3 separate regions of the Homo sapiens genome follow, and all the other regions are linked to region 3. The links come from fine-mapping of genetic effects on gene expression. A gene starts in region 3. Each other region holds a variant in brackets. All regions are shown on one strand. Distances are between the middles of the regions.

What was found. PIP is the estimated chance that this variant, and not a neighbour inherited with it, causes the effect.
Region 1: its variant is fine-mapped to the expression of SLURP2-AS1 in sigmoid colon (GTEx, PIP 0.90).
Region 2: its variant is fine-mapped to the expression of SLURP2-AS1 in prostate (GTEx, PIP above 0.99).

The regions. Positions count from the first base shown.
Region 1 is chr8:142,781,799-142,791,861 of GRCh38, reverse strand. LY6D (lymphocyte antigen 6 family member D) reads left to right here and starts at 5,323. Exons shown (of 3, transcript NM_003695.3): 1 at 5,323-5,397; 2 at 6,175-6,273; 3 at 6,406-6,980. The coding sequence starts at 5,346. The coding sequence ends at 6,641. RefSeq lists a silencer at 9,163-9,212. The variant G/A (reference allele first, on the strand shown) is at 4,164.
Region 2 is chr8:142,768,409-142,778,471 of GRCh38, reverse strand. LYNX1-SLURP2 (LYNX1-SLURP2 readthrough) reads left to right here and starts at 600. Exons shown (of 5, transcript NM_023946.5): 1 at 600-713; 2 at 2,351-2,566; 3 at 2,778-2,879. The coding sequence starts at 2,515. It overlaps SLURP2 (secreted LY6/PLAUR domain containing 2), which reads left to right and starts at 8,644. Exons shown (of 3, transcript NM_177458.3): 1 at 8,644-8,717. The coding sequence starts at 8,666. It overlaps LYNX1 (Ly6/neurotoxin 1), which reads left to right and starts at 1,270. Exons shown (of 4, transcript NM_177477.4): 1 at 1,270-1,366; 2 at 2,351-2,566; 3 at 2,778-2,879; 4 at 3,109-7,270. The coding sequence starts at 2,515. The coding sequence ends at 3,305. The variant C/T (reference allele first, on the strand shown) is at 7,302.
Region 3 is chr8:142,756,052-142,766,114 of GRCh38, reverse strand. It overlaps SLURP2-AS1 (SLURP2 antisense RNA 1), which reads right to left and starts at 3,050. Exons shown (of 2, transcript XR_007061134.1): 1 at 2,620-3,050. It overlaps LYNX1-SLURP2 (LYNX1-SLURP2 readthrough), which reads left to right. Exons shown (of 5, transcript NM_023946.5): 4 at 975-1,079; 5 at 1,374-1,777. The coding sequence ends at 1,510. SLURP2 (secreted LY6/PLAUR domain containing 2) reads left to right here. Exons shown (of 3, transcript NM_177458.3): 2 at 975-1,079; 3 at 1,374-1,777. The coding sequence ends at 1,510.

The sequences.
Region 1 (10,063 bases), 26 kb before region 3:
AATGGAAGATGAATGGATGAGAAGATGGATGGATGGAGGCTGGATGGATGGAAGATGGAGGATGGATGGATGGAGGATGGATGGATGAAGGCTGGATGGATGGAAGGTGGGCAGATGAGTGGATGGATGGATGGATGGGTGGACAAATGGTAGATTGATTGATGGATGACTGGATGGATGGAGGATGGATGATGAGTGGATGGAGAATGGATGGATGAGTCGATGGATGGATAAGTGAATGAATGGATGGGTAGACAGATGGTAGATTGATTGCTGGATGAGGGATGAATAGATGGATGGAGAATAGACAGATGAGTGGATGGATAGATGGGTGGGTGGATGAGTGGAGAATGAGTGGGCAGATGGTAGATGGATGGATGCATGGATGGATGGAGGATAGAGGATGGATGAGCAGGTATGTATTGGGAGCAAATGAAGGCAGGGGAGTGGGGGAGGAAAGTGAGGTGGGCCCTGTGCTCACCAGCCTTGAACCTACCTCATGGAGCTAAGGGTTGGCAGCCACAAGTTCCAGGCCACAACAGGAAGTAGACTGAGCTGTGGCCTAGCAGAGGGGAGAACCCAGGAGTTCAGCATTAACACAAACCCTCTGACATTCCCTAGAATGCTGGTGGGAGCATGTCCTAATGTGTGAAAATAACCCCCGTCCAGGGCACCTGATTCTCATCCAGGTTCCTTAGGTCTTGCAATTCTAGGGTTCTGTGTTCTGCAAGCCCATGCTAACAGCCTGCAGTCTTGGGACTCTGAGGTCCCCACAGTTGTTTGCGCTATGGTTCCGTGGCTCCAGGGCTGCACTCTGCTGCAACCTCTCTCCCCCTACCACAGGCTGGACACAGTTCACACCCTGAGGGATTCTCCCTCATCGCCCAGACTTTGGCACTGGGCACCCTTGACTAGCCCCCTGAATGCCAGCGCTTCGCAGGGACCATGCCGGTCCTAGGTGCTGAAATGGTGCCTCTCCCAGGGAAGGTGCCAGCCCCGCCTGTGGGCACCACCAGCCAGGCCTGGGAACAGGTTTGTTTCTCTTGGGCCTTAGGAACCTAGAGCCCCAGTCCAGCCTTTGCTGGGAACAAGCTGTGCCCCAAGGTAGAAGGGTTTCTCCATCCACGAAACTGCTCCCTAGATTGCCCCCCTGGCAGTGCAGGAAAGAGAGACCTGGCAAGGATGAGGGGCCTGTGTGGAGGGGCAGAGCTGGCCTCCATCCCCGGCCCCTGGCCCGGCCCGGCCCGGCCCATGGACACTAGGTGTACCCTGGGAGGGGTGGCTGGTAGCCAGGGTCCCAGGGGGTGACCTAAGACTAGGGCAGGGCCAGGCTTGGCCCTGGGAAGCAGGTGAAAGAGACTTTGCCTGAGATTGTGGTGCTATGTGTAAAGGTGACTCCGGCACTAGAAAGAGGAGTGGGGAGGCCAGGTGTGAGGGAAGAGCCCAGGCCCAGAGGCCCAGCCCAGCTGTGGCTCCCGCTTGCTGGGTGATGCCGGGCAAGGCCGGGCCCTTGCTGTCCATCTGAGGCCCCATCTGTGCAGGTGAGGGGGCTGAGAGGATCAGGGCAGCCTCTAGAAAGACACCACACACTCAGCCGCTCAGCTTGGGGCAGCCACCTGCCCCTGCGGGGGAAAGAGACAGAAAAGCGGCCTGGCACCTGGGCCCCAATGCCCTTGCCCGACACCCACCTGCTTACCAGGTAATGGCCACACACCCTTCCCTGCTTAGACAGCTCCAACAAGGTTGGTCCTCCCTTGGCTTCTCAGCCCCAGATCCTCACCCTCCACATCATCACACCCCTGCTGTGGGTCCCACAGAGGCAGCAATTGTCTGTTCCCACTCCCTACTGGTCTGCAGGCCCTGGGACCTGGGCCCTGTCTCTCTTCTCTCCTGGTTTCCATTATATCCAAAGTGCCTTGCATATGGTTGGTCCTTATAAAATGTTGAAGAATGAATGAATGAATGAGTGAGTGAATGAATGAATGAATGGAGTGCCTCAAGGCAGACGGATGCATTTTGGAACCCCTGGGGTGTGGCTGGGATTCTGGCTTGCCCAGGTAACAGCCTGAGGGTGAAGAAGCCCTTCCTTGTGCCCTGGGGCTTCCCAGCTCCTCCAGCCCAGGCAGCTCCTCCAGCCCAGGCAGCTCCTCCAGCCCGCGGCCCCGCCTTGTCCACCGGGCACCCACTCAGTCAGCTCCTCCAGGCCAGGGCCCTGACTTGTCCACCAGGCACCCACTCAGCCAGCTCCTCCAGCCCAGGGCCCCGCCTTGTCCACCGGGCACCCACTCAGCCAGCTTCTCCAGCCCGGGGCCCCGCCTTGTCCACCAGGCACCCATTCAGCCAGGACAGGGCCCAGGGCTGGGCTGGTGCAAGCCTGGAGTACGGTGCTGTGCCGCCCTAAGCCAGGCGCTTCCCTCTCTGAGCCACCACACCCTTGTGTGTTCCTAGGGGCCCAGCATAAGGTAGAGGGGGCAGAAGGTGGGGGAAGGGGCATGAGCAAGGAACTTCGGCTCCAGACAGAAGCCTGGGCTTGTCCCCGTGCCGGGTTTCCTGGTTCAGGGAGCAGGGGGCAAGGCTAACGGGGTGGGGCGGTGGTTTTCCCTGCCCCAGGCCCCTTCGTCGCCTCTCCCAGGTGTCATTTCTGCTGCCAATACCCTGATGGTACCAACCAGGCCCAGGGCCCCAGCTCCAGGGGCTGAGTGGGAGGGGTGGAGTGGGGGAGGGCCCAGGCCCTAGAGAACAGAGGAGGGAGGAGGGGGGAAAGGCTGGCGGTGATAGTGAGAAGTGCTTGAGACCCCACCAGGTTCTGCCCCAGAACGTGCCTGGAGCTCTCTGGCCCTCACTTCCTCACCAGTGAACAAGCACTGGGCAGGGACTGACATGAGGGGCCACAGTGTCTCCTCTCCACATTCCAATCCCTGGCTCTGAGGCTCTAGTCAGGTCACTGCCTACAAGAAACCCTCCCTGACTGCACTGTCCCCAGAAGCTCAGCTGTCCAAGGGCTCCTGGCATCAGAAGCACCCGCTTTCTCCTGAAAGTGAACTGTGTAGGGCTGCTGTTCATGCTTTTGCTAGGACCACCTGGGATGGGCAGCTCATCCTCGTGGGCAGCCCTGCCAGGTCAGAGGCCCTCATCCCACAAAACTGGAACCCCGCTCCGGCTCCCATGCCTGGCAGGGACGCAGCCACAGTGATGCCTGAGGTGTCCCACGGGGGTGAGCCAGGTGTGCAGGGCCCTCCTCCAGCCCCAGGTGTGGGGAGCACACTCCCCCATGGCCCCACACTCAGAACCCACTCTCAGGCCACCTGACATCCCGGACCCTCCAGCTCCACCAGACCCAGCAGGAATTCCAAACCTGTTTTTCCAGCAGCTCTCATGCCCCTGGCCACAGTGAGTCACCCTCCCCACCTGCCATGCCCACCGAGTCATCACCCCGCCACCAAGCCCTGAGCTCTGCCTCCCAAGGCCCCTGGAAGCACCTTCCCCCAAGCTGCCCATGCCTCTCACTGTGACCCATGGACACAGGGCCTTGGAGCTGGAGGAAACCTCCTCTCTCTGGGTGGGGGCATGGACCTTTGGGTCACCTGCCTTGGCAAGTGAGACTACACACGTCCCCACCAAGCTCCAGCCAGGGCCAGGCACCAGATGCAAATGTGGGGCTGCCCCAGGGGGCTCCCGCCTGCACCCTGGTTTCTAAAGGCACCACCAGGCAACCCCTCCTGTAGGTGGATCCTCCAGGCCCCGGCACTGTGTCAGGGAGAGCCCGGCCAGGAGCATTCTCAGGAGACATTTGCTGGGATCCCCGGCATCTGAGACGTGGGGCTCAGCAAGGGAGAGATGCCGGGAGGAAGGGCCAGAGGGTCTGTCTCAAGCCCAGGCCTGACTGGCCCCAGTACCCACGGTGCTCCCAAAAGCCTCAGCCCAGCCCAGGACCACCCTCCTCGGAACCGGCCCTGCCCTGCCCTGGGCCTGTTGTTGTCTGTTCATCAGCCACGTGGCAGCGGCGGCAGGAGGCTGGGCCCAGGGCTGACCTCCATCTGTGCCCCGGCTCCCACTCACCTTCAGCCTAGCCAGGGCAGGGGCAAAGCAAGTCTGTGGGCCCCTCCACACCACTCAGGTGGGTGCTGCCCAGCACAGGCGAGCGGCAGAGCGTGCTGGGCTGA[G/A]CAGGTGGATGGGGGCCCCAAGAGGTGGGCTCCTGCGCGAGGCGGTGGGTGCTCAGAGACCCCGTCTCCAGGGAAAGAAAGTCCCTCCTGTGAGTATAAAGAGGGTGAAGGCGGGGACTGGCCTCCACTCAACGGGCAGCAGACCAAGAACCTGCTTTGAGGCCCTGGGTGCTGGGGCCCAGCCCCAAAGAGTTCACGATTTTGGGGAGACTGGAGCCGGGACACCTAGAGCAATAGTTACAAAGTGGCCGGGATGGCGCTGCCCCCAACGTAGCAGGAGGGGCCTGGAGAGTGGGGGAAGGAATCCCACGGGGAGGGCTTCTGGGGCCCTGGAGGGCGGGAGGCAGGGCTGGTGGAGACCAGGAGGGCTCAGTCTCTCCCTGCACAACGCAGGGTGGAGTTGCTGCCTCCACAGCCCGGGCCTTCTGCCCACAGGGCTCCCCAGGCAACTTCGAGGGCCGGGTCCTCACAGTCCTCACTCTGTCCAGTGCTCACCTCACTGCTGCCCCAGCTGCCCTCCCTGCCTCGGAGTGGCCTCTGCCTCTGCCTCTGCCTCACACACCCCATCAGCCCACAGCCACCCCGAGCCCTTGCAGCTCAAGGACCTTCTGCATCCCCGGCAGCAACCCTGAGCCCAGAGCCAGGAGAGTAGGACCAGCACCTGCCCTTCCTACCTCCCCTGCCCTGGACACCCACGGGCACCCACAGGGCACCGGGCACAGGCTGCAACTCTATTGAGGGAACTATGGGGGGAATGCAGGGACAAAGACACAGGATGGTGATGGATGGTGGGGGGTGGGGGGCGGGGGGTAGCGGGTGGCAGGTCAGAGACAAAGTGACCCAGGAACGGACGGCAGCGAGAGAACAAGACCCACAGAGACAGAGAAGTGAAAGTGGGAGAGATGGAGGCACAGCAGCAGGAACAGCAGGGCCAGGAGGCCACTGGGCCCCGTTGCGGAGGGCAGACCTCTGCCTGGCGGGGGGCAGCAGGGGCAGCGCCCAGCGACAGCCAGGCTGGTGGGCGTGGGCCAGGCAGGGTGGGGCAGGTGCCCGTCCTGGGCTGACGCTTGCACAGAGCCCTGCAGAATGCCGCTGGCTGGCGGACTGCCCACCCCCGCCCAGCCCGTGCCTATAAGGCCTTGGCAATGCAGGGGCCCGCACTGCTCCCAGACGACATCAGAGATGAGGACAGCATTGCTGCTCCTTGCAGCCCTGGCTGTGGCTACAGGGCCAGGTGAGGGGCTGGGCCAAGGGGACGGGCGGGTGGGCGGCTGTGGCCTGTGTGGTCACCAAATACTAGGAGCCTGGAGCTGACGACATCTAGGCACAGAGAACCCCGACACTGTGGGTGCTAGACTCTTCAAATTTAAAACAACATGGAGCCCGAATCTTAACGAGTGTCAGATTTACAATGTTTCAGAATCTGAGGATCTTAGAACTGACTCCTGGAGTCACGGACCCTGAGAGAGTGGAGCAGGGGGTTGTCTTGAGATGCTTCTCACTGGGAGAGCGGCCATCTAGTCCCTGCCACCAGCCCCTCCCGGTCCCCAGGTCTCCCCCAGCACAGCCCAGGACAGCCCAAAGGCCACCAAGCCCTTCCTGTCATAGGCTCAGAGCAGCCAAGCTGGCTGCCCCCGGGGCCTTAGCTCCGTCAGGCCCTCAGAAACATAGCCATCTCCTCCAGGGACATCCCCTGGGGTGGGGACAAGAGCCAGTGTCCTCTTGGCAGTCGCAGAGCTCCCTGAGACCTTGGAGGAAAGGCTTGCAACACACCCTAGACAGGGGCAGGGCAGGACACCTCTTCCAAGCCGGCCCAGGCTGGAATACATGTCCCCTGAGGCTGCACTCAGGGCACATGCCCTGCCAGGACCCAGAGCCCGGGTTTGGGGGCCTAGGGCAAGGGCAGCAGGGCCTCTGTCCAGGAGGGGTCTCTGCAGGTGGGGGAGCAGGCCCTGCTGAGTCACCAGGAGGCCTCTGTTGGGCCCGCTGAGCCGGACTCCCTCCCCGCCAGCCCTTACCCTGCGCTGCCACGTGTGCACCAGCTCCAGCAACTGCAAGCATTCTGTGGTCTGCCCGGCCAGCTCTCGCTTCTGCAAGACCACGAACACAGGTGGGTAGCATCTGTCCAGGTGTCCCTGGGGCTGGGGGACATCCCTGGCTGTTGTGGGTGTTGGCTGGAAGGTTGTGGGGAGGTGGGGGGCAGAGGTGGCTGCCTGGCCTGACCACACTCACCTGTGCCCAGTGGAGCCTCTGAGGGGGAATCTGGTGAAGAAGGACTGTGCGGAGTCGTGCACACCCAGCTACACCCTGCAAGGCCAGGTCAGCAGCGGCACCAGCTCCACCCAGTGCTGCCAGGAGGACCTGTGCAATGAGAAGCTGCACAACGCTGCACCCACCCGCACCGCCCTCGCCCACAGTGCCCTCAGCCTGGGGCTGGCCCTGAGCCTCCTGGCCGTCATCTTAGCCCCCAGCCTGTGACCTTCCCCCCAGGGAAGGCCCCTCATGCCTTTCCTTCCCTTTCTCTGGGGATTCCACACCTCTCTTCCCCAGCCGCAACGGGGGTGCCAGGAGCCCCAGGCTGAGGGCTTCCCCGAAAGTCTGGGACCAGGTCCAGGTGGGCATGGAATGCTGATGACTTGGAGCAGGCCCCACAGACCCCACAGAGGATGAAGCCACCCCACAGAGGATGCAGCCCCCAGCTGCATGGAAGGTGGAGGACAGAAGCCCTGTGGATCCCCGGATTTCACACTCCTTCTGTTTTGTTGCCGTTTATTTTTGTACTCAAATCTCTACATGGAGATAAATGATTTAAACCAGTGTGGCTGTGGCTGTGCTATTCTGGGACGGAGGAGCTGAGGGGCGGATATCAGGCCACATAGGTACCCTGAGCCTCCAGCACATGTCCCCTGGGGCCAGTCGTGGGGTGATGCCTGAGGTGGCACCGTCCGTCCCCACCCTGGAAGGGGCAGGCTGCTCAGATGCCTCCCACCGCCCCAGAGGTGGAGGGCACTCCTGGGGTGAGGCCTGAGTAGGAGCACAGGGTAAGAGGGCTCGCAGGCCCCTCCCACACATAGCACCTAGGGGAGAAGGAACCCCTCAGCCTTTCACCCCGGGTCATGTCTCTGAGACCGGGGTTCAGGAGCCTCCAGAGAGGCCGGCTTGGGACACCCCAGGCCCAACCCCAGCTTTGGAGCCAAGTAGGCACTGACTACCTACAGCCATCGCCAAGGCAAGTCCAGCTGCCCAGGGAAAGTTCAGCCACCATCCAGGAAAGTCCCATGGACCCTATCTATGGGAACCCAGCAGCCCCTTGGCCAGACCTCACCAGGGTGAAGCTAGACTGGGCGGGGAGTATGACGCAGGGAATATGGGCCAGATGAGGTCGCCCAGAGGCAGGGAGGGTTCCGCACCCACTGCGTGGGTTCTGGTATTTCGGGGATGAGGTTGGGACGTGCAGTGAGATGAGGCCCCCGGCAGATGCCCCAGCAAGGGGCCCTTCCACTTCTGGAGAGGGCCAGAGGCTCCTGCAGGCTGACCACATGTCCCCGGCATGGGAAGTCTCAGGCCTCACCAGGGTCAGAGCAGAGCTCTGCCTTCCCCCAGGCCAGCTCCCTCGCAGGCCTGGCCTGGAAATTCCGTGGTGGCAGAGCCCCCTCCGGCCGCGGCCAGCAGACGGTGGCGTAGCGTGGGTGGCAGCTGGTGAGGGGTCAGTGGTGCTCCCTGGCCCTGGGTCCAGGCATTCAGCTCTTTGTCCCACACACCATGAGACCAGCACCATCACCACCCCCAGTTCCAGCTGAGGGGCTGGGGGCGAGTGGGGTGCTGGATGGTTACTGGAGGTGAAGCGTGATTTGGGAAGGCCTGCTCTTACCACCTGTCCATCCTGCCTCCCCTGGGACCCAGGGCCACTGTGCAACCCCCTCCTGGAGGGCTGCCTGCCCAGCCAAGGCACCGCGACCCAGGACTGGGTCTGGGTGAGCTTCACTGTCTCCACCTTGGGATCACCCTTCTCCACACCCAAGGCCCATCTCCCCAGGGCGGCCAAGGTGGGTCACTCCTTGCCCTGACTGAGAGACCTTAGGCAAAGCACTCCACCTCCGGGAGCCTCCATTTTCCTCCACTGGGCACCCACCTGGTGCAGCCAGCACCCCACATGCTGCCTGTGACTAAATGGTGGCCCTGGCCCTCAGCCCCCCTCCCAGCCACTGCAGGGCTGCAGGCATTTCCGTGCGCTCCTGGGGCCTCAGACCCCACCTAGTGCTCCTGCCCTTGGCTGGAACTGGGGGTGGTAATGCTGCTGGTCTCATGGTGCGTGGGACAAAGAGCTGAGTGCCTGGACCCAGGGCCAGGGAGCACCACTGACCCCTCACCAGCTGCCACCCATGCTACACCACTGTCTGCTGGCCGGGGCCGGAGGGGGCTCGGTCACCATAAGTTTTCCAGGCCAGACCTGTGAGGGAGCTGCCCTGGGGGAAGGCAGAGCTCTGCTCTGACCCAGGTGAGGCCTGAGACTTCCCATGCCGGGGGCGTGGGGTCAGCCTGCAGGAGCCTCTGGCCCTCTCCAGAAGGGGAAGGGCCCCTTGCTGGGGCATCTGCCGGGGGCCTCATCTCACTCCACGTCACAGCCTCATCCCCGAAATACCAGAACCCACGCAGTGGGTGCGGAACCCTCCCTGCCTCTGGGCGACCTCACCTGGCCCATATTCCCTGCGTCATGCTCCCCGCCCCCTCCAGTCCAGCTTCACCCTGGTGAGGTCTGGCCAAGGGGCTGCTGGGTTCCCATGGATGGGGATGGGCCCAGGCAGCTGGACTTGCCCTGGGTGGTGGCTGTGGGTAGTCAGTGTCCACATGGCTCCGAGGCTGGGGTTGGGCCTGGGGTGTTCCAAGCCGGCCTCTCTGGAGGCTCTTGAACCCCAGTCTCAGGGACATGACCCAGGGTGAAGGGGTGAGGGCGCCCCTTCTCCCCTGAGTGCTGGCATGTGGGAGGGGCCTGCGAGTGCTCCTGGAGGTCTGAGTATGAGCGCCCTCTGGTGGCCACCGGAGAGCCGGGTGCCGGGGCTCCTGCACAGGGAAAATCCGCCTTCGCCCAGGCCAGTGCCGCTCATGGCCCCATCTGTGCCCTTTTCCACTCCACTCTGGACAGGTGGCCTGAGGCCTGCCAAGCGCCCAGGGCAGGGTGTGCGAAGGCACCTGGGCATGGGAGTCGGGCAGAGAGCAGAGGGGTAGGAGTGCCTAGGCCGCAGGCCCACCCATCCCCACTTCCGTATGGGGAAACTAAGGCTGGGCAAGGGAAAGTGACTCCTGCCACTTCACGGCAGGCTGGCTGCAGGAATCCTCATCCAGGGCCCAGGGAACGGGAGTGCTCTGTGTCCAGTGCAGCCTGGAGGCAGGCGGGAATGCCACCTCCCCTACCACTCCCACCCCTGAAAGGCAGGAAACGGGGGCTGTGGCCACCAAACTCCAGGAATGAAGGAAGAGGGAGTTCTGCTGGTGGGTCAGGGAAGACTGCAAAGCAGCAGCAGGTACAGGGACAACGAAGGCAGCATGGATGAGGCTGCGTGCGGGCCCTGGGCAAAGGCCCAGGAGTGGGAGCGAACCTGCAGGATCCAGAGAGGGCTAGGCTGCCCATGTGGCTGCAATGGGGCCTGGGAGCTGGCAGGACTCCAGACCAAGCCCAAGGACAGTCACAGCTCATAGCCCATCACTGCCCTCTGCCCTGTGCCTCCAGGGGTCCCTAGCTCAGTCTCCCAGCCTCCAGGCTGCTTCTCTGTGACCCTGCTGGACAGCTCCTCAACTGTCCTGGACACAACCTGACCCCAGCCCCAGCCCCAGCCAAGACTCTGTCAGGCATCTTCAGTCCCACACAGGGCCTGCAACCTTGTAGGTGTGGACAGCGCAGC
Region 2 (10,063 bases), 12 kb before region 3:
TCCCACCAGAGTGTGAGCTCCATGGGGTGGGAATATTCTGGAACGTCTGCTGGTTTTATTCTTTGCCTTCTCCCCAACTAGGACCTGGCACAGGAGGGTGCGCATTACCTCTCGGCAAACAGAACAACTAACTGGCCTAGTTTGCTGGGGACCGAAGGATTTCCTGGAACCGGAGCCCGCTTGCCCAGCAGGCATGGTGTATTCTGTACCTCAGGCCCGCAAAAATGTTTTAAAGAAAAAAATGAGCTTTAGGGTAGAAGAAAAGGTTTTATTTTTCTTTCTCACATTGGAAAAAATGAAAACTTTCGGACCCATGAAATTTTATTACATTTTGCCAAAAACAGAACCAATAACATAAGTATTCAAAGTTATGTAAAGATAATTATTTAATATGAACATTATGATGGTGAGAGGGACCACGGAGCAAGGGGCTGCCTTGCAGGCCTGCCTTCCAGCTTTGCTACAGGGACCAGAAGCGGGAGCTGAGCGCAGGGGAGGCAGGCGGAGGCCATGGGCAGCGAGGCGGGTGCGCCAAAGGGCGCCAGTTCCGGAGCTGCTGGGCCTGGGCTGCAGGAGGGCGGAGCTGGGGCCGCAAGGCTGGTGCCGGCCGACAAACGACGCGGCGCGGGCGAGTGGGCGGAGGCGGCTGCGGGGAAGGCTGGGCTGCCGCGGGACGCGGTGAAGATAGCCTGCGGAGTGTCCGGGCTGAACACGTGAGTCTGAGGGTCGCCAGGGAATCACTGCGTGGCTGCCTCTGTGTCGGAGATCCAGATGCCTGGACTGGCCTCGGGGTCCCAGCGCTTGCCCGGCGAGCCGGCGGTCCGGGGACGGGTCCGGGCCGAGGCCTGCGGTGAACTCGGCTCGGCGGGTGCCCAGGAGGCGGGTCCGGGGCGGGGCCTGCGGTGAACTCGGCTCGGCGGGTGCCCAGGAGGCGGGTCCGGGGCGGGGCCTGCGGTGAACTCGGCTCGGCGGGTGCCCAGGAGGCGGGTCCGGGGCGGGGCCTGCGGTGAACTCGGCTCGGCGGGTGCCCAGGAGGCGGGGCAGGGGCGGGGCCTGCAGTGAGCGCGGCTTGGTGAGTAGCCCAGGAGGCGGGTCCGGGGCGGGGCCTGCGGTGAGCTCGGCTCGGGGGGTTGCTCAGGAGGTGGGGCCGGGGCAGGCCTGGGGCGGGGCCTGCGGTGAGCTCGCGCTGGGCGGGCTGTTCCGGGGGCGGGACTGGGCTGGGCCTGCGGTGAGCATCAGGCGATGCGGCACGGGTGCTGCGGGACACACAGACACGCCTACGATTAGACTCAGGCAGGCACCTACCGGCGAGCGGCCGCGGGTGACTCCCAGGCGCGGCGGTACCTCACGGTGGTGAAGGTCACAGGTGAGGTCACCCTGATAGTCCCGCTCGCGCCGAGAGCCCTCCCCTCGACCTGGGACCGCAGTGTTTGGGGCGGGGCTCTCCGTGAGGGGGTTGGGAAGCTCGAAGCCGCAGGCCTGACTCTGGCCTTTGGCATCCTGGGGTTGGCCTGGGCAAATGTGTCGTGAGAGACGGATTTGTTGTTCTCGGGAAGGCGTAAGTTTAATTTAGTCCTCCAGGACGGAGACCGAGGGCCGAGTATCCCGGCAGGGGTAGGAGAGCCGTAATCCAACCCCCACCTCCCCACTGTAAACCTCTTTCCAGAGAGGGCATTCCCGTTCCAAACACCAGACCCAGCCGGGGAAATGCTTCTTCTTGTCTGGCCCAAGTGCCCTCCTGGGAGGGGCTCAAAATGCATTCCCCCCAAGCTGGGCACAGCTCATCCCTGCTGGGGAGCTTCTGCAGTGGCCGAGGACTCAGACAACCCTAACCAGGGCTCTGGAGGTCTTCTGGAAGAAGGAACCCCAAGTAGGGACACCCCAGGAGCAGAGAGGAGGGGAACAGCGAGAAGAGACCCAGCTTTTGGGCCCAGTCCTGCCATGGCCAGCCATCCGGCCCCCAGGGCCCTGCTTGGGATGGGGCTGCAGACCACCTCCCATGGGACCTCTGCACCAACCATCCCCTGGGTAAAATCCTTGTTTAGGCCTGGTATTTAAGGCCCCTCTGCCCATCCCTACTCCTTCTCTAGCACTGCCCCTCATCCTCCCCCCATCTCTCCTCCATCCAGCGCTACAGGCTGTTTTGAGCTTTTGCAGGTGCTGGTCTCTGATTGAAATGTCCTGATCTCTTCTCCCTTCTTGTCCCATCCCAAGTGTCTCCTCCTCCAGGAAACCTTCCCTGACACCCACTGAGTTAGGTGGCCCCTCTGCCCACCATCATCCCTGCCCAGGCCCCCATGGGTCCTTCAGGCCCAGTACTGACCACCTGTCTTTGCCACCTGCTGTGCAGGGTTGCAGCACTCCCAGTAGACCAGGAGCTCCGGGAGGCAGGGCCGGCCCCACGTCCTCTGCGCACCACCCTGAGTTGGATCCTCTGTGCGCCACCCCTGAGTTGGATCCAGGGCTAGCTGCTGTTGACCTCCCCACTCCCACGCTGCCCTCCTGCCTGCAGCCATGACGCCCCTGCTCACCCTGATCCTGGTGGTCCTCATGGGCTTACCTCTGGGTAAGATGGACAAAGGACAGAGGGATGGGCAGACCCACTTTGAGGGCAGATGGGCTGACAGTAGGGAAGGAGGCTAGAATTCCCAGCGACAACCCCTCCTTCTAGCCCCCTGCCCCGGGGAAGGTGACGGGCTGGGGGCCTGATGGGCTGGAGGAGGGGCCTCTCATGTTCTGTGACCCCCGTTCCCTTCCCGCCCATCTGCCAACCCCAGCCCAGGCCTTGGACTGCCACGTGTGTGCCTACAACGGAGACAACTGCTTCAACCCCATGCGCTGCCCGGCTATGGTTGCCTACTGCATGACCACGCGCACCTGTGAGTCTGGGGGCCCTGCGTGGCCCTGCCTGGGGAGCACGAAGGGGAGGTTCTGCCCTGCCCCTGAGCATGCGGGGGTCCTGAGGAAGGAGGCTCTCCTGTTCCCGGATCCTGTCTGGGAGCTCCAGGCTGAGGGGCCCTGCCCTGATGGCTGTGGATGCTGGGGTGGGGCCAGCTGGGTCTCCTGCCCCTCTTAGCGGAGCTGGCTCACCGCCCCGCCCCTCTGCAGACTACACCCCCACCAGGATGAAGGTCAGTAAGTCCTGCGTGCCCCGCTGCTTCGAGACTGTGTATGATGGCTACTCCAAGCACGCGTCCACCACCTCCTGCTGCCAGTACGACCTCTGCAACGGCACCGGCCTTGCCACCCCGGCCACCCTGGCCCTGGCCCCCATCCTCCTGGCCACCCTCTGGGGTCTCCTCTAAAGCCCCCGAGGCAGACCCACTCAAGAACAAAGCTCTCGAGACACACTGCTACACCCTCGCACCCAGCTCACCCTGCCTCACCCTCCACACTCCCTGCGACCTCCTCAGCCATGCCCAGGGTCAGGACTGTGGGCAAGAAGACACCCGACCTCCCCCAACCACCACACGACCTCACTTCGAGGCCTTGACCTTTCGATGCTGTGTGGGATCCCAAAAGTGTCCGGCTTTGATGGGCTGATCAGCCCCTCGCCTGTCCAGGGCTATTTATGGGGAGGGGCCCAGTCAGGCAGGGAGCACTGAGCAGATGGGAGCTGTGGCCAAGCCCACCTTCTGGGAAGCCCTAGGAGAGGCCCCTGCCTCAGTCTGCCCCTGGTGTGCTGGGGCAGGGGGAAGACAAGGAATGCCCGCAGGTGGGGTGGTGGGGAGACTCTTAGGAGGAAAGGCTCCTCCAGGCCTAGTCACGCTTCCTACTGAGGCCAGGAGCTGCCAGGACCGGTACGGGATCAGGGCTGTGGGAGGAGGGCCTTTGGCACCGGCCCCTGTGCTAGGAAGTCTGCCAGGCCCGAGTTGGAGCCACCCCCTGCAGGGGAGGGGGCGGCTCTGCCTCAGCAGGCCCCAGGGCCCCCGAAGTCACAGAAGCTTTTTCGGGTCCAGCAAGGGGTGTGTGTCCTCTCAGTCAAACCCCTTGACGTTTCCCACCCCCTCACGGGGAGGGCACCAGGCCTGAAGCTGGCAGGAGCTAGGGCCATGCTATATTTGGTGGGTCCTGGACGCTGACCCGGCCAGCGCTATTCTGGGCAGGGAGGGAAAGGGGCAGAGCAGGTGGTCCCCCGAGTCCTGGTCCCCAACCACAGCAGGACCCAGCCGAGCAAGGCAAAAGACGCAGGACTGGGGGATGCGCGCACAGGCTGGGGGTTGGGAGCAGCCTGGGGCCGGCGCGGGCCTGGGCGTGGGAAGGCGGAGCATGCCACCCTCTCGTGGCCGTGCGGGGGCGGGAGTGGGGAGGGTGGGGTGGGGAGGGCGGAGACCCAGCCCCTCCCCCGCAGCGGGATGCGCACAGTGAGTGGGTCCCTCCATCACCTTCCACCTGGGGATGCACCCACTGGGAGGGCAGGGTGGAAGCCCCAGCTGGGTGTGTGGACTCCCAGGGACCCCACCCCAGGCCTGGGAAGCAGGGGTCAGCCCAACACGCACCAATCCATCCCCGATGCAGGTAGCCCAGGGAGCACCTGCCCCTGCTGTGAATGGGGCATTCGGGGGCGTGAGACCTTTTGGTGCCAGCGGTCACGCTGCACCTGAGGCCCCCACCTGACCAGTGCTCCCAGCTCTGGTGTCCTGAGAAACCCTTCAAGCCATCCCGCATGGGCAGGATGGTGACATATCCATGTGGTAGGATTGTCCCGGCCCCAAAGTATGGCCCTGGTCAGGGGAGCCCCTGCTGGAAATTGCATCTCCAGAGCTTTGATGCAGGACCCCTGGGGGATCAGGGAATGAGGGTCTCCACCCCAGGGGTCTCCTTGCAGTGAGTCTATATGCAGGCCTGCGTTCTGCTCCTGGGGCTGGTTCTGAGTGCCCAGCTTCAGTCTCCTGAGAACATGAGGATGGGAGGGGGCAGAGTCTTGCTGAGGGCACACCCAGTTCCCGCTGGAGGAGGACAGTGCCAGTCTTCTGCAAAGGGACCTTGGGTGGGAACGGGCCCGGAGCGGGAGGAACGTGACTCCCCAGAGGGAAGATGGGCATCATACTGGGCCCAGAGCTGGGAAGGAGTTGCTGCCAGCACAGGGTGGGCCTGGACTCCCCTCGCCCCTACCCCCAGTGGTTGTGGCTGTAGCCCTAAGCCTGGAGAGCAGGACCGGCCCGGGGTGTCTGGGAGGCTGCCAGGTGCCTCCCAGAGCTCCCAAGGGCCCCCACCTGCAAGTGCCAGCCTCAGGGCAGTGCCCAAATGAGGCCCTCTCAGCTGCAGCCAGCGATGCCTTGGGATGCTTACCGGGAGGGAGGCGGCTTTGGGCTCCTAAGTCCTTGGGAGAGGCTGGGAGCAGTCACTGCGCGGCTTGCGCAAGCCCATTGTCGGGTTGGGTGGCTTCCTCAGCCAGGGCTGGGAGGGACTCCAGGATCAGGTCCTCCCTGTCTCGAGTCTCAGTGGGGTGATGGGGAGGAGACCTGGCCACCCATGGCTCAGGGGCAGCTGAGAACAAGGACCTGCTGGAGCTGGAAGTGCTGTGGTGTTGAGGGGTGGGGTGGGCAGCTTCTCACACCTGCCTCCTGCCTCCTTCTGTCCACCTTTCCACCACCCTGACCTGTCCCAGCCCCACACATGGTTCTGCCTGGCTGGCCTGCCCTTGGCACCTGGCGTAGAGCACACAGAAGGCACTCAGCTAATGCTGGGCAGGCCCACTCATGGGGAGTGCGTGGCTGTGCAGCACCAGGGAACCGGCACAGCAGCGCCGGCAGAAATCACAGCAGTAAACTTGTCCGGGTTGTATGCATCAAGGTGGCGATGGACGTGGGTCCCCCCACTGCACTGTGGCCCTGAGCACTGTATAGCAGCCCGGCAATGGGAGCCATTATCTTGCCCCTTTGACAGAGGAGGACACAGAGGCACAGGGAGGTGAAGTAGCTGCCCCACACTAGTGCCTCCTCGCTCACTCACCACCCCCTGCACCACAGTGCAGCCGCTTCTCCCACCAGCTGGGGTTCCTTGGACCCCCAAGCCTGGGAAGGGGGAGGTGAGTTTACAAAATGGAAAGCTTAAAAGGAGAAAAGTGGAACCAGAGGTTTGAGAAGCCCTGAGTGGTAGAGTAAGGCCTCCAGCGCTGCCTCTGGGTGCAGGGCAGAGTGGCAGAGGAGAGGGGGAGAGGCACTGGGCACCATGGGGGCCCAGTTCCCACTTCGGGGATCTCTCTCGCAGAACCGAGGGTCCCCTTCATGGGGGTAGATGCCCAGGGCTAGCTGTTGCCACTGTCTGTGTGGACCTGAGTCCTGGACATGCCCGAGTGACTCAGGAGTGGCTGCTTGGGCGGGCTCTGTCACCCTAGGATGTTATACATTCTGGGAACTGGACAGGAGTGGCTGCTTGGGCGGGCTCTGGCACCCTGGGATGTTATACATTCTGGGAACTGGACAGGAGTGGCTGCTTGGGTGGGCTCTGGCACCCTGGGATGTTATACATTCTGGGAACTGCAATCAGCCACTAGAGAAGTCGGAGCTACAGGAAGTGACCCTGGGGTGGGACCTGGGGACATGGCCAGGTCAGCATGGGGACACCCGGCTCCAGCAGGAGCTCTGGTCTGTCCTGGGGTCTTTGGGGGCAGGGCTGCGGCCCTGGGCAGGCTTCCTCCAGGCGGAGGTCCTGGGGAAGTGGGGGAGCCAGGCCAGCTGCCGCCTCCCCCACTATGTAGCATCTGATTCGTCATCTCTCATGAAGGCGATTTGGTTCATAACTCTGAAACTCTGAAAAAGGTCAAAAGAAGCAGAGAGGCCCTCGGTGGATATGCCAGCTTTTCTGCCGGTGCTTTCTCCCACTACTCTGGGTGGTCTGCTCTCCTCTTCAAACCTCAGCTCGCAGGGAGGGCCTGAATCTGCCAGCCCCTCAGGATCTCCTTCCCTCTGGGCCCTCCCCAGCCTTAAGGAGCCTCCCAGACAGAAGGGTGGACAGAGCCACCTGGGCAGCCCGAGAGACACACGGGGGTCCTCCCTGTGGACAGCCCTGCCAGCTTCCGCCCAGCCCTGAGCTTCATTTGCATCTTGAGGAGTAAGGGGTGGTGAAATGGGAATGCTGGTCTGGCTCAGCTGGTCGTGGGCATAAGTGCCCGCTGAATGGATGGCATCTCTCCCTCCTGTCTTATGTTCTGGGGTCCAGGTGCTTCCCAGGGCCATGCCCCTGCTGCTAATGCTTGCCCTAACCCTTACCCTAACCAGCGTCCAGCGTCGTCTCACCGAGCCGTAAATAAATCAACAGATTCGCATTGTCTGCGCTTCTCTCCAGCCCCACTGCCT[C/T]GGCCTGAGCTCGGGCCTCACCTTTCCAGCCTGGCTGGGCTGGCACTCCAGGCTGCATGCAGCCACTTTCCTGTCTACCCTACCCGGTCCAGGTCCTGGACTTTTCTGGCCTCTAGGCCTGACCTGTCCTCGGAGCCAGGCACAGGGAGGGAGACAGGCAGGGCTCCTGGGGCTTGCTGAGAGTTGCTCCCAGTTCCGTGGGAGAGAGGCCACCCCCCACCCAGCACCCCTGAGGGGCATACAAACCCCTGAGGAAGTCTGGGTGTGCGGGGTAAGGGAGGCGGGAACTCCCCCAGGACCCCATCCCACCATCTCTGACCTCTCTGCCTACCTGGTTCCTGACCCCAGCTTCTCGACTGCCCCAGGAAGGAGGGCCTGGATCTGCCAGCCCCTCTTTCAGGATCTCCCTCCTCCTGGGCCCACCTCCCAGCCATAAGGAGCCCCCGAAACGGAGGGGTAGACAGAAGCCATGTGGGCAGCCCGAGAGACACATAGGGGTCCCCGGGTTGGCATGGCTGACTGGCTACGGACAGGCCCTTTGGGGCCCCAGCCCCTGGCCAGCCTTTGGAGGAACAGCTGATGGCTCCCGCTCTCCAGGGTGTCCCTTCTGGGCTCTTACCTTATCCTTGGGGTCCCTTTTAGTACCAAGGGCCTTTCTGTCCCCCCTACTCCTCTGCACAGATCCTGGGGCGTTAGTCACAGTGTGACAATGGCCATGATTCCCTGTACGGATGACAGAGAGGTGGCTCACAACCATGCTCCCTCTGTGTTCTCCCAGCCCTGCGGGGGTCAGGATGGGAAAGCTCTGGCTTATTTGGAGGAGGTCTTGTCATGGAACTCATTCTAGGGTGGGAGTACAGATGAAGGCCTGTGGCTTCCACCCAGCCCTGAGCTTCATGTGCATTTTGAGGCGTAAGGGGTGGGCTGGTGGCTGGTGCCCAAGACCCTCCTTCCCACCAGACCTTCCTTCCCAGCCTCTGAGGGAGACCGGCCTGTGGCCGTCACCTGCCTGGTGCCAGGCCTTCCTTCCCAGCCACTGAGGGAGAGTGGCCTGTGGCCATTGCTTGCCTGGTGCCAGGCCATTTTATCAGATCCTCAATCCTGTCAGCCAGGGCTATCCCTACTTTATGGACAAGGAGAGATGGCTCATGAGATGACACCGGCCCGCTCAGAGGCCTAACCAGCGAGCTTTGGGGCCAGGTTGGCCCCTACCGCCCGGACCCCAGCCCGGCTCCTTGACTGAGCCCGGCTGCCTGGTGACTCAGACCCGCAGAGTCTGCTGAGCGGGCGAGGGCCAGGGCGGGGTGCCAGCAGGTATAAGGCAGCCGGCCAGGGCGCCGACAGCCCGACCTCACCAGGAGAACATGCAGCTCGGCACTGGGCTCCTGCTGGCCGCCGTCCTGAGCCTGCAGCTGGGTGAGTCCAGGGGCTGGGGCCACCTCCTGCTCAAGGCCCCCATCACTCTAGCCCAACCACCGTCCCTCCAGCCCTGGGCTGTGACTGCCCACCTCGGGAGAACCCATTCCTGTCCCCCCACCATCTACCAGGTGCAGCTTTCCTCCGAAAGCCTCCTGCGATCCTGCAGGTCCATCCAGCTCAGCCCCAGCCCCCGACACTGGCCCCCACACTTCTCAGGATGCACAGCCCTTGGCTCAAACCCCCCTCTTCCTCTGCCCAGCCCCCAGACCTCTCCAGTCCACCGCGACACCCCTCACACACGCACCTTCGTGCACGTGCACACACACACTCTGAATGTGCCCCCCTCCAGCCCTCTTGGGCCTGGCCTCCCAGCTGGTTTGTCTCCTGGGGCCACCCTCCCGGGACTCCCTCTTCCCTCTTGCCTGGGAAAACCAAGTCCCTCTGCTCTCCCATCCCCAGTTCCTGCTCCCGGGTCCTCTCCTCTGCTCCCCGCTTTCCTGGGTGATTTTACCCCCTCCCCATCCCCCAACCCTCGACCCCCGCAGTGCCCACGTCTGCTACGGCTGGCCCTGTCCCCCCAGCTTCAGATCCCTTGGCCCAGGGCCTTCCTGAGGGCTCCAAGGGGATGACCCCTCAAGCACAGCTGTGCACACCTGGCCTTGGCATCCCCCAGCAGAGCCTGAACGTCTTCTCTTGGCAGGGCATCTCCACCCCCACCCTGAGGCCTCAACAAAACCAGCTGGCCCCTTGATCTGCCGGTGGCCTGCACCTCCAAGCCCAAGCAGCCCAGCCCCCCAGGGGCCAAGCCTCTGCGTCCCTGGCTGTGGGTTGAACGACCTGGGCAGCCCCTGCCTCCCAGGCCCTGAATGAGCAGGGGGTGGAGCGTCGGTGAGTCCCTGGCGCTGGCTCAGGTGTCTCTTACATCCCTCCAGTCTCCATCCCCAGGGGCACCCTCCTGGCCTATGAGAGGCTGAGCCGCTGACCCTGAGGACTGCCCCAGGGTCATGAGGGCAGACCAGCTCTGTGCTGAAGGTCCGAGACACACAGGGGCCTGGGGACTCGACTTAACCTGGAGAAGGCCTTTGTAACCATCAGGACTGGACAGGCAGTCAGGTGGCCATCCAGGCCAGGGATGGCACATCACAGGAGCCTCTGCCTGGGTGCCCGGTGCCCACGGACTCCCCTCTGACCCAGAGGCCCTTCCCTGCACCAGGGCTCCTGGAGCCCTTCCTTCTGCTGAAATCCCACCTGCCCCTCGAGGAACAAGCCCCAAGCTGCCTCACTGCTCTTCCGGTTGGAGGACTGGCGAGCCTCTCTCAGGGGCACCTGCATCCCCTGTCATT
Region 3 (10,063 bases):
CTCACTAGCCACAGAGGAACAGGCAGGGAATTATTAAAGGACTCTAGTTCTTTCTCTTTCTCAGAGGGAATTGGGTTTTCTTACATACAACTGAGTTTCTGTTTACACAGCCTTTTTTTGTTTTTTGTTTTTTGTTTTTTGTTTTTTTTTTTGAGGTGGAGTCTTGCTCTGTCGCCCAGGCTCGAGTGCAGTGGCGCGATCTCGGCTCACTGCAACCTCTGCCTCCCAGGTTCAAGCAATTCTCCTGCCTCAGCCTCCTGAGTAGCTGGGATTACAGGCACACGCCACCATGCCCAGCTAATGTTTTTATATTTTTAGTAGAGATAGGGTTTCACCATATTGGCCAGGCTGTTCTTGAACTTCTGACCTCAAGTGATCCACCCACCTCGGCCTCCCAAAGTGCTGGGATTACAGGCGTGAGCCACCGCGCCCGGCCTACACATTCTTTAATTTCTTTTAATTCCTGTTCCACCACATCCTGGTCGCCCTTGCCCTGGGCTCCCTGTGGAGGCAGGAACGGCCCCATCATCGCAGCCACCAGAATCCAGTCCCGGGGGTCTAACAGGTCCCACTCAGTACCCAGAGGCAAAAATGGGCATGGCCAGAAAGCGTGTCTCAGAGCCCCTCCACCTCCTCCCCACCCCCCACCCTGGGACCCCAAATAGCCCAGGCTGCTGCACCACCACTGCCCTGGGACATCACACTGCGAGCCAGGGCTGCCCGGCCCCACCCTTGCCCAAGGCTGCTTCCTGGGCAAGGATGCAACCAGCTGGCTCCAGCTGCAGGGCTGCCAGGCACCCCAAGGTGAGGGACAGGGGCCCAGCTCCTGAGAGGGCTGGATCACAGGGTCGGGACACTGGCCGCTGAGAAGGAGCATGGGCTGCTGGGTGGAGATGAGTGCGTGCCGTCACTGCAGAAGGTGGCCCACACCTGCCTCCCATCCGTTTGTGTCCTGTCTGTCCCCATGTCCGCAGCTGCAGCCGAAGCCATATGGTGTCACCAGTGCACGGGCTTCGGAGGGTGCTCCCATGGATCCAGATGCCTGAGGGACTCCACCCACTGTGTCACCACTGCCACCCGTAAGTGGGAACAGTGGTGGGCTGGCCACGTCCTTCTTGCCCAGGTGGGAAGATGTGGGCTCAGAGGGTGACAGAGCCAGATCCAGGCACCCAGTAAGTCAGAAGCATAGTGGGGAGTGTCCGCCAGTGATGCCCAGGGAAGGGTATGAGCAAAGGGCCACGTCTGCCCCAGGAGGGCCCGTATGCTTCATGTACCTGGGGCGTCTGACCCTCAGCTCAGTGGCAGATGGGGCAGCAGGGTCTGGGCAAACCAGAGCCTCAGGGAGCTCCATGGTTTCTCTCCTGCCCACTCAGGGGTCCTCAGCAACACCGAGGATTTGCCTCTGGTCACCAAGATGTGCCACATAGGCTGCCCCGATATCCCCAGCCTGGGCCTGGGCCCCTACGTATCCATCGCTTGCTGCCAGACCAGCCTCTGCAACCATGACTGACGGCTGCCCTCCTCCAGGCCCCCGGACGCTCAGCCCCCACAGCCCCCACAGCCTGGCGCCAGGGCTCACAGCTGCCCCTCCCTCGAGACTGGCCAGCCCACCTCTCCCGGCCTCTGCAGCCACCGTCCAGCACCGCTTGTCCTAGGGAAGTCCTGCGTGGAGTCTTGCCTCAATCTGCTGCCGTCCAAGCCTGGGGCCCATCGTGCCTGCCGCCCCTTCAGGTCCCGACCTCCCCACAATAAAATGTGATTGGATCGTGTGGTACAAGCTATGCAGTGAGAGTGGAGTCCTGCCATCCTGGGCTTGGGAGTAGAGTGGAGTAGATTTGGGGGTGCCTCGCTCCCTCACCCCAGGCTAAACCCTACTACCCCACCCCCACTTGCCCTTATCACGGAACAGGCCCTCCCGCCTCCAGCCAACTGTCAGGCCTGAAGGGCACGGGGGCCCAGGCACCCCGGGCAGCTGCTTCTCCTGAAGCAGCTAGAGTGGGAGTTGGGGCTGGGGCACATGAGGAGCCCTCCACCCCAGAGCGTGAGTTGGGAAACCTCAGAAAAAGGACACCCCGGCTGAGACATGGAGGCTGTGCGGGGTGGAGGAAGGGAGGAGGTGCCATTGGCAAAGACGGCTGCAGCAGGCCTTCTGGAATAGGGAGAAGAGTGAGGCGGCATCCTCACCCTCGCCCTCATACATGCCCCTGGGCCAGTGGCCCGGCCTGCCCCTCTCTAGGAAACCCCCAGTTCTGGCAGGGAACACCACCTCCAGCTCCTCTGGGCCACTGGGTACCCAGCACACAAGGCAGGGTGCTGGGGAGAGATGCTGGGAGTGGGATGAATCAGACTGAGGTGATGGGCAGCTGTGGCCACCCATCTCAGGGTGGACATGGAAACTAGGTAAGTGATGTTTGTGGAAGTTGATCACTCCCTAGGCAACATTGCGTCATGGCCGAGCTTCGGGCTGCAAGGTTGAATGAGACCCCCACATAAGCCTGGCACTCCCCTCGGAGAGGCCGAGGTGAGTCAATACCTGCAGCACCCAGATCCCCCCGACTGAGTTAGCACCTGCCAAGAAACACACCGCCAGGCCCTTTCCTTGGCCTTTCTTGTTCTCACCTTGGCAACGTTCTCATGAAGAATCAGCACAGGAGAAAGCTGATGCAATTGTTAAGCTGCTCCACAAGGAGGGGGTGTCTCAGGCAGGGCCGCCGGACACTCAGGTGCAGGACAACTTTCAGAGTAGCCCCGGGCACAGAAGAAGACATAAACAGGGTGCGCTGGAGATACCCAGATAAGCTCAAGAATTGAGGTGACAATGGAGCACTTCTCAGATCTGCAGGAGAGGGACAGGGCTCACTGGCAGCCGCCGTGGAGCACTGTGGAGAGAACAGGATAAGGCTGGATCATCACCTCTCTCGCTACAGCCAAAGGCATGCCAACTGAATGAGAGGTTTCGATGTAAAAAGAGGAGGTTTTTTAATGCTAGATAATTCAGAATAGAAAAGCAAGACACGTTCCTGAAAGGATTGGACAGAGTTGCTGTAAACACAGCAATTCCACCCCCGCCCCCCCACCTGGTCCAAATTCCACCCCCAGGCCAAATTCCACGCCCAGGCATGGCCCAAGAAGAGTAAACACGAGTCCACACAAAAGCCTGTGCACAAACATTCACAGTGGCATTATTCATAGCAGACAAAAGGCGGGAAAAACCCAAATGCCCATCAACTGATGGAGGGATCACAGAGATGACAGACCCACACCACAGAATGTTATTCAGCCACATAAAGGAATGAAGCCCCGACCCACGCCAAAACACGGGAGAGCCTTGAAAACACGCGGGGGGTGCTTGAAAACACGATGCTAAGTGAGACAGAAGCCGCGCACAACAGGCCAAGCAGTGTACAGTTCTATTTCTCAGAAGTGGCCGGAATAGGGAGCTCTATAGGGAGGAAAAGGAGATGAGTGGTTGCTAGGTGGTGGCAGGGATTATTAAGAAATACGGAAAGGCCGGGTGTGGCGGCTCACGCCTGTATTCCCAGCACACTGGGAGGCCGAGGAGGGTGGATCACCTGAGGTCAGGAGTTTGAGACCAGCCTGAGCAACATGGTGAGACTCCGTTTCTACTAAAAATACAAAAATTAGCCAGGTGTGGTGGCGCATGCCCGTAATCCCAGCCACTTGGGAGGCTGAGGCACGAGAATCACTTGAACCAGGGAGGCGGAGGTTGCAGTGAGCTAAGATGGTGCCACTGCACTCCAGCCTGGGCAAAGGAGCGAGACTCCATCTTAAAAAGCAAACAAACAAACAAACAAAAAGAAATAGGGAAAAGCCAGAGTACTTTTCCTGCTCTCACACAATACAGTACTTCACCCCATCACCAAAGTGTGTGTATTTCTCTCCACCAGCAACCAAGCCACACTGCCGTGGACACCAACTGGATGTCCTCAATTCAATTCCGACACCATTCCTGTGGCGGTCACGTCAGATCCCGCAGGTGGAGGGCTCAGTGCCACGCAGTGAGCCCCACTTCCAATGCCAGTCGCAAGCCCCAGGTGTGGCCCGTGCTTCTGACCAACCTGCCATGAATCAGGGTTCCCACAACCCCCTCCTCGGGTTTGATGACTTGCTGGAGCGGCTCATAGAACTCAGGGACACACTGAGCCGCGTTTACCCATTTATGACACAGGCTGTGACGAAGGTGTGGACGCACAGCAGGTGGGGGAGACGCGTGGGGCAGGCACAGGGAGGGGCTCAGAGCTTCCAGGCCCTCCCAGTGCCACCCCCAGACACCTGCGCATGTTCTGCTCTCGGAGGCTCCCTGAGCCCTGTCCTTTTGGGAAATTTACAGAGGCTTCATTACGTAGGCATGATGGATTAAACTACTGGCCACTGACCAACCCAACCTGCAGCCCCTCCCCTCCCCTGAAGGCTGGGGGTGGGGCTGAAGTCCCAGCTCTCTAATCCCGTTGTCCCTCATCCTGAAGCTCCCTGGGGACCCCCAGTCACCAGTCCTCTCATTAGCATACAAAAGATGCCCTTGCCACTCCAGAGATTCCAAGGGTTTTAAGAGCTGTATGTCAGGAAACCAAAATATCCATCTCACAATCTCACAAAATAAGCAATGTCAGAAAACCAAAATATCCATCTCACAATCTCACAAAATAACCACTTCACGTTCTCACAGTGAATGGAGCAAAGATAGCGCTGAAGCGTTCAAGGTTTCTTTTCAAGATGATGAAAATGGGCTAAAACTGCGAATATGGTAAAAACCACTGAGTTACCCACTGTAAACGGGTGGATTGTATGGTGCGTGAGAAACCACTGAATTACCCACTGTAAATGGGTGGATTGTATGCTGTGTGAGAAACCACTGAATTAGCCACTGTAAACGGGTGGATTGTATGGTGCGTGAGAAACCACTGAATTAGCCACTGTAAACGGGTGGATTGTATGGTGCGTGAGAAACCACTGAATTACCCACTGTAAACGGGTGGATTGTATGGTGCGTGAGAAACCACTGAATTACCCACTGTAAACGGGTGGATTGTATGCTGCATGACAAACCACTGAATTACCCACTGTAAACGGGTGGATTGTATGGTGCGTGAGAAACCACTGAATTAGCCACTGTAAACGGGTGGATTGTATGGTGCGTGAGAAACCACTGAATTACCCACTGTAAACGGGTGGATTGTATGGTGCGTGAGAAACCACTGAATTACCCACTGTAAACGGGTGGATTGTATGCTGCATGACAAACCACTGAATTACCCACTGTAAACGGGTGGATTGTATGGTGCGTGAGAAACCACTGAATTAGCCACTGTAAACGGGTGGATTGTATGGTGCGTGAGAAACCACTGAATTACCCACTGTAAACGGGTGGATTGTATGCTGCGTGACAAACCACTGAATTACCCACTGTAAACGGGTGGATTGTATGGTGCGTGAGAAACCACTGAATTACCCACTGTAAACGGGTGGATTGGATGGTGCGTGACAAACCACTGAATTAACCACTGTAAACGGGTGGATTGGATGGTGCGTGACAAACCACTGAATTACCCACTGTAAACGGGTGGATTGGATGGTGCGTGAGAAACCACTGAATTACCCACTGTAAACGGGTGGATTGTATGCTGCGTGAGAAACCACTGAATTACCCACTGTAAACGGGTGGATTGTATGCTGCGTGAGAAACCACTGAGTTACCCACTGTAAACGGGTGGATTGTATGGTACGTGAAAAACCACTGAGTTACCCACTGTAAACGGGTGGATTGTATGGTGCGTGACAAACCACTGAGTTACCCACTGTAAACGGGTGGATTGTATGGTGCGTGACAAACCACTGAGTTACCCACTGTAAATGGGTGGATTGTATGGTGCGTGAAAAACCACTGAATTACCCACTGTAAACGGGTGGATTGTATGGTACGTGACAAACCACTGAATTACCCACTGTAAACGGGTGGATTGTATGCTGCGTGAGAAACCACTGAGTTACCCACTGTAAACGGGTGGATTGTATGGTACGTGAAAAACCACTGAGTTACCCACTGTAAACGGGTGGATTGTATGCTGCGTGAGAAACCACTGAATTAGCCACTGTAAACGGGTGGATTGTATGGTGCGTGAGAAACCACTGAATTACCCACTGTAAACGGGTGGATTGGATGGTGCGTGACAAACCACTGAATTACCCACTGTAAATGGGTGGATTGTATGGTGCGTGAGAAACCACTGAGTTACCCACTGTAAACGGGTGGATTGTATGGTGCGTGAAGTATATTCAATAAAGCTGTTAAAATTTTTTTTAAAAGAAAAGACACAAAACCGGGATTGGGATTCATAAATACTACCTAAAAATCTAAAATAAAAGAAAAGAAAAGAAAAGAAAAAAAGAATAAACAAACTGAAGGACGAGACAAACAAGGAAATATTTGCCACGCATGTAACACGCGATGATTCCCTCCACACATAACGTCCACAAAAAGAGTCAAACTCTGTAAAATATTCGAAGACATTTATTCTGAGCCAAATATAAGGGGCCATAGCCCACGACACAGCCCTCAGGAGACCCTGAGAACATGTGCCCAAGGTGGCTGGGGCACAGTCTGGTTTTAGGGATACTGAAGACATCAATCAAATACATGGAAGATATACATTTCTCCATCCGGAAAGGCAGGACAACTCCAGCGGACGAGGTGGGGGCGGGGTGGGGGGGGGGGTGGGATTCCAGGTTTTAGGTAGATTTAAAAATTTTCTGATTGGCAATTGGTTGAAAGAGTTAAGATTATCTAAAGAGCTGGAATCAATGGAAAGGAATGTGTGGATTACAAGGGGGGTGGAGACCAGGGTTTTATCGTCAGATGAAGCCTCCAGGTAGCAGGCTTCCGAGACAATAGATGGTAAATGCTTCTCCTCAGACTGAAGGTCTGTGTTGATGTTAACGGTGGTCAGCTTTTCCTGAATTCCAGGAGGGAGGAGGGATGATGAGGCTGTCCAACCCTTTCCCGGCATGATCCGAACCAGTTTTTCAGGTTCACTTTGGAATACCCTAGTCAAGAAGAGGGTCCATTCAGATGGTTGTGGAGGGCCTTAGAATTTTATTTTTGGTTTACAGTAAATAATCCTTCGAGATTCCCAAAGAGCAGCAGATATGAGCAGCAGGTTTCCAGAAAAAGCCATTCAAGTGGCCAAGCCAAGGAGAAGAAATTCACCCGTACTGGGAATCACAGAGGTGCCAAGCAGAATTGCAAACCCCCAAGCAGGAGAGCGACCAGGCCACGCGGCGAGAAAGGACACGGACCAACCTCGGTGCTGTCCCAGATGCAGCCCTCGCAGGACAAATCAGCCCTGTCCAGGAAACTTCAAAATGCCACTAGCATTTCGTTGAATGCTGGCTCCCTAAAATGTCACCAAAAACCCAAGGACAGGTCACCCCAGCTCCCTCCAGCACTCCTGGGATTTGAGTCTGATTTGAGGTAGGTCTTCCAATGAGGGGGCTCCATTAGTGTTGAGCCAGGACTCGGAAAAAGTAGTTTAGAATTTTGAGGCCATGGGTTCTGAGTCTTGAGGTGTCCCCTAACAGTTTCTATTGAAGAGTCAATAGGCCTTTCGGGAAGATCCTCAATAAATGATAGCCATTTGCTGCTTTATCTTCCTGGAAGCGTGAAGCTCAGGAATGAAGATGCAGGGTGGAAAGTCATGGTCTAGGCCAGGCACAGTGTCTCACCCCTGTAATCTCAGCACTTTGGGAGGCCAAGGTGGGCGGATCACTTGAGGTCAGGAGTTCAAGACCAGCCTGGCCAACATGGTGAAACTCCATCTCTACTAAAAATAGGAAAATTAGCCGGGCATGCTGGCATGAGCCTCTAATCCCATCTACTCAGGAGGCTGAGGCAGGAGAATCACTTGAATCCGGGAGGCAGAGGTTGCAGTGAGGCCCGTCTCTACTAAAAATATGAAAATTAGCCGGGCGTGGTGGCATGCACCTATAATCCCAGCTGCTCAGGAGGCTGAGGCAGGAGAGTCATTTGAACCCAGGAAGCAGAGGTTGCAGTGAGCTGAGATAGCACCGTTGCACTCCAGCCTTTGATAGAAGGAGACTCTGTCAAAAAAAAAAAAAAAAGGGAAGGGGAGGGGAGGGGATCGTGGTCCCATGAACAGTGAGCCCTGTGGGTGGAGTTGGCTCCAGTTCTCAGTGTGATCAAGCCCTGCTCCTACCCGCTGCTCCTAACAGGGTAGGGGGCAAAGAACATGCACAGACACATGTTCCCTGCAGTTTTCCCATCACGAAGCTGCAGGGGAGCTAACCTGCGTGGGTGCAGAGGGTGGCACTGGAGGACACATCCCTTCTGGAAGGACACGGGAGACCTCTTTCCAACGTACAACGCTTGGCGCTGTTTGTGCCTCCACTTCCTTTTCAACATAGGAACACTGGTTTAGGAGCCATTGGCCTGCCCTGCTGGATGACCGGGAGAGCCGGAGCCCAGGTGGGGCAGCCCTTGAGACTCCCGGGAGACCACCCTGAGGCAGGCTGCGCAGGAAGGCTCGCTGGGCCCTGGAGCTGCAGTGGCAGAGAGAGCTCCTCTGGGTTCTGGGTGAGGGTGGGTATTGCCAACATAAATTGGGAGGGACTGAGCAGGGGACAAGGCCACAGAGGGGAACAGTGCCAGCTCCTACAGGGCTCTGCGTGTCAGACTCAGGATTGTGTCTCCTGCCCACTCAGCACCTCTAAGCCTGACTCCTTCCAGCCAGCCCCCAGGCCTCACTGGACTCTGCCAGCCCTCCCTGAGCCTTGCTGGCATCTAGCCTGGAAGGGTGCCCCAGGCCTGAACTTTTGACACTTCCTTTTCCCCGTCCACCCAGGAAGCTGCCCGAATAGAGGAGTTCCACTTTTGGAGGCAAAAAAACAAATGAGGCCATCTCATACGAGTGTGATCAGAAACTGCCCTGCCCCGGGCTTGGCCACAGCCTCCCACATGGGGCCTGGGGACCCCTGCCCCAAAGCTGAGGTGCTCACAGCACAAAACGTGAACAGGGTGAGAGGACGGAAGAGAAGCCACCAAGAGCAGAGCAGGCGGGGCTGTTCACCTGGGTGCAGGGGAGAGGCCCCCAGTGCTGCCCCTGTGGCACCTCACTGTGGCTTGGAGCCAGCAGGGAGCCCAGCCTGTGTTGGTGGAAGGCCCAGGCCTCCACCCACAACCTTGCCAGGGCACCGCCTCGTGCTGCAGGGGCTGGAAAACCACAGCTCCCTTTCCCAGGGGCCCTGGAGCCTAGGGGCGACTTCTATTTCCTGAATATGGAAGGCAGGAATCCAGGCAAGGCACCTACTTCTCTGCTGGCTGCGTGGGGTCCTGGCTCGCGGGGCTTCTGGGCCGCAGGCCACCTTGCAAAGGTATACATGTGAAGGCAGTGGCTCCTGCATAGGCCCCGCCCACCGCCTCCCTGATAAGCAGTGGGCGTGGGGTCTCATTCCAGGAGTCTTTCCTCAAGACCCATTGAGGCCATCAGAAGGCATTACCTACAAGTGACCCTTGAGGGTCAGATTCTGGAGCTGGTCATCTGACCTCTGAGGGTCCCATCAGCCGAGAAGATGGGCGGCAACAAATCAGCTTCCAAATCCCTCCCCTGGGATGAGGTGGCCACGGAAGGTGAGGCTTTGGGGACGGCATGTGGCTGCACTTCATCATAAGGGTGGGAAGGGGGAAGGCAAGAGCAGACGCCAGAAGCCACCTCCGGTGAACCTCAGCACTTGTGGAGAGAATGACAAAGTCGGGGGTTTTACTGTTTGGTGCAAGATGCAGCCAGGGATGGAACATGTCTGCCAGTGGCAGAAAAGGAAGACAGAGACTGAAGCTGGAGGAGGATGCAGTGCGCGTGGCTGACTGGCAGGTGGAGGGGTCACCCAAGGAGGAATGGGGGCCCTGGAGCAGACAGCAGCCTCCGCAGATGCCAGCAAGGAAACAGGGATGTCAGCCCTGCAACCTCAAGGACCCGGATTCTGCCAGTGCCTGAGTGAGGCTGAAGATTCCTTCTGGAGCCTCCAGGTGGAG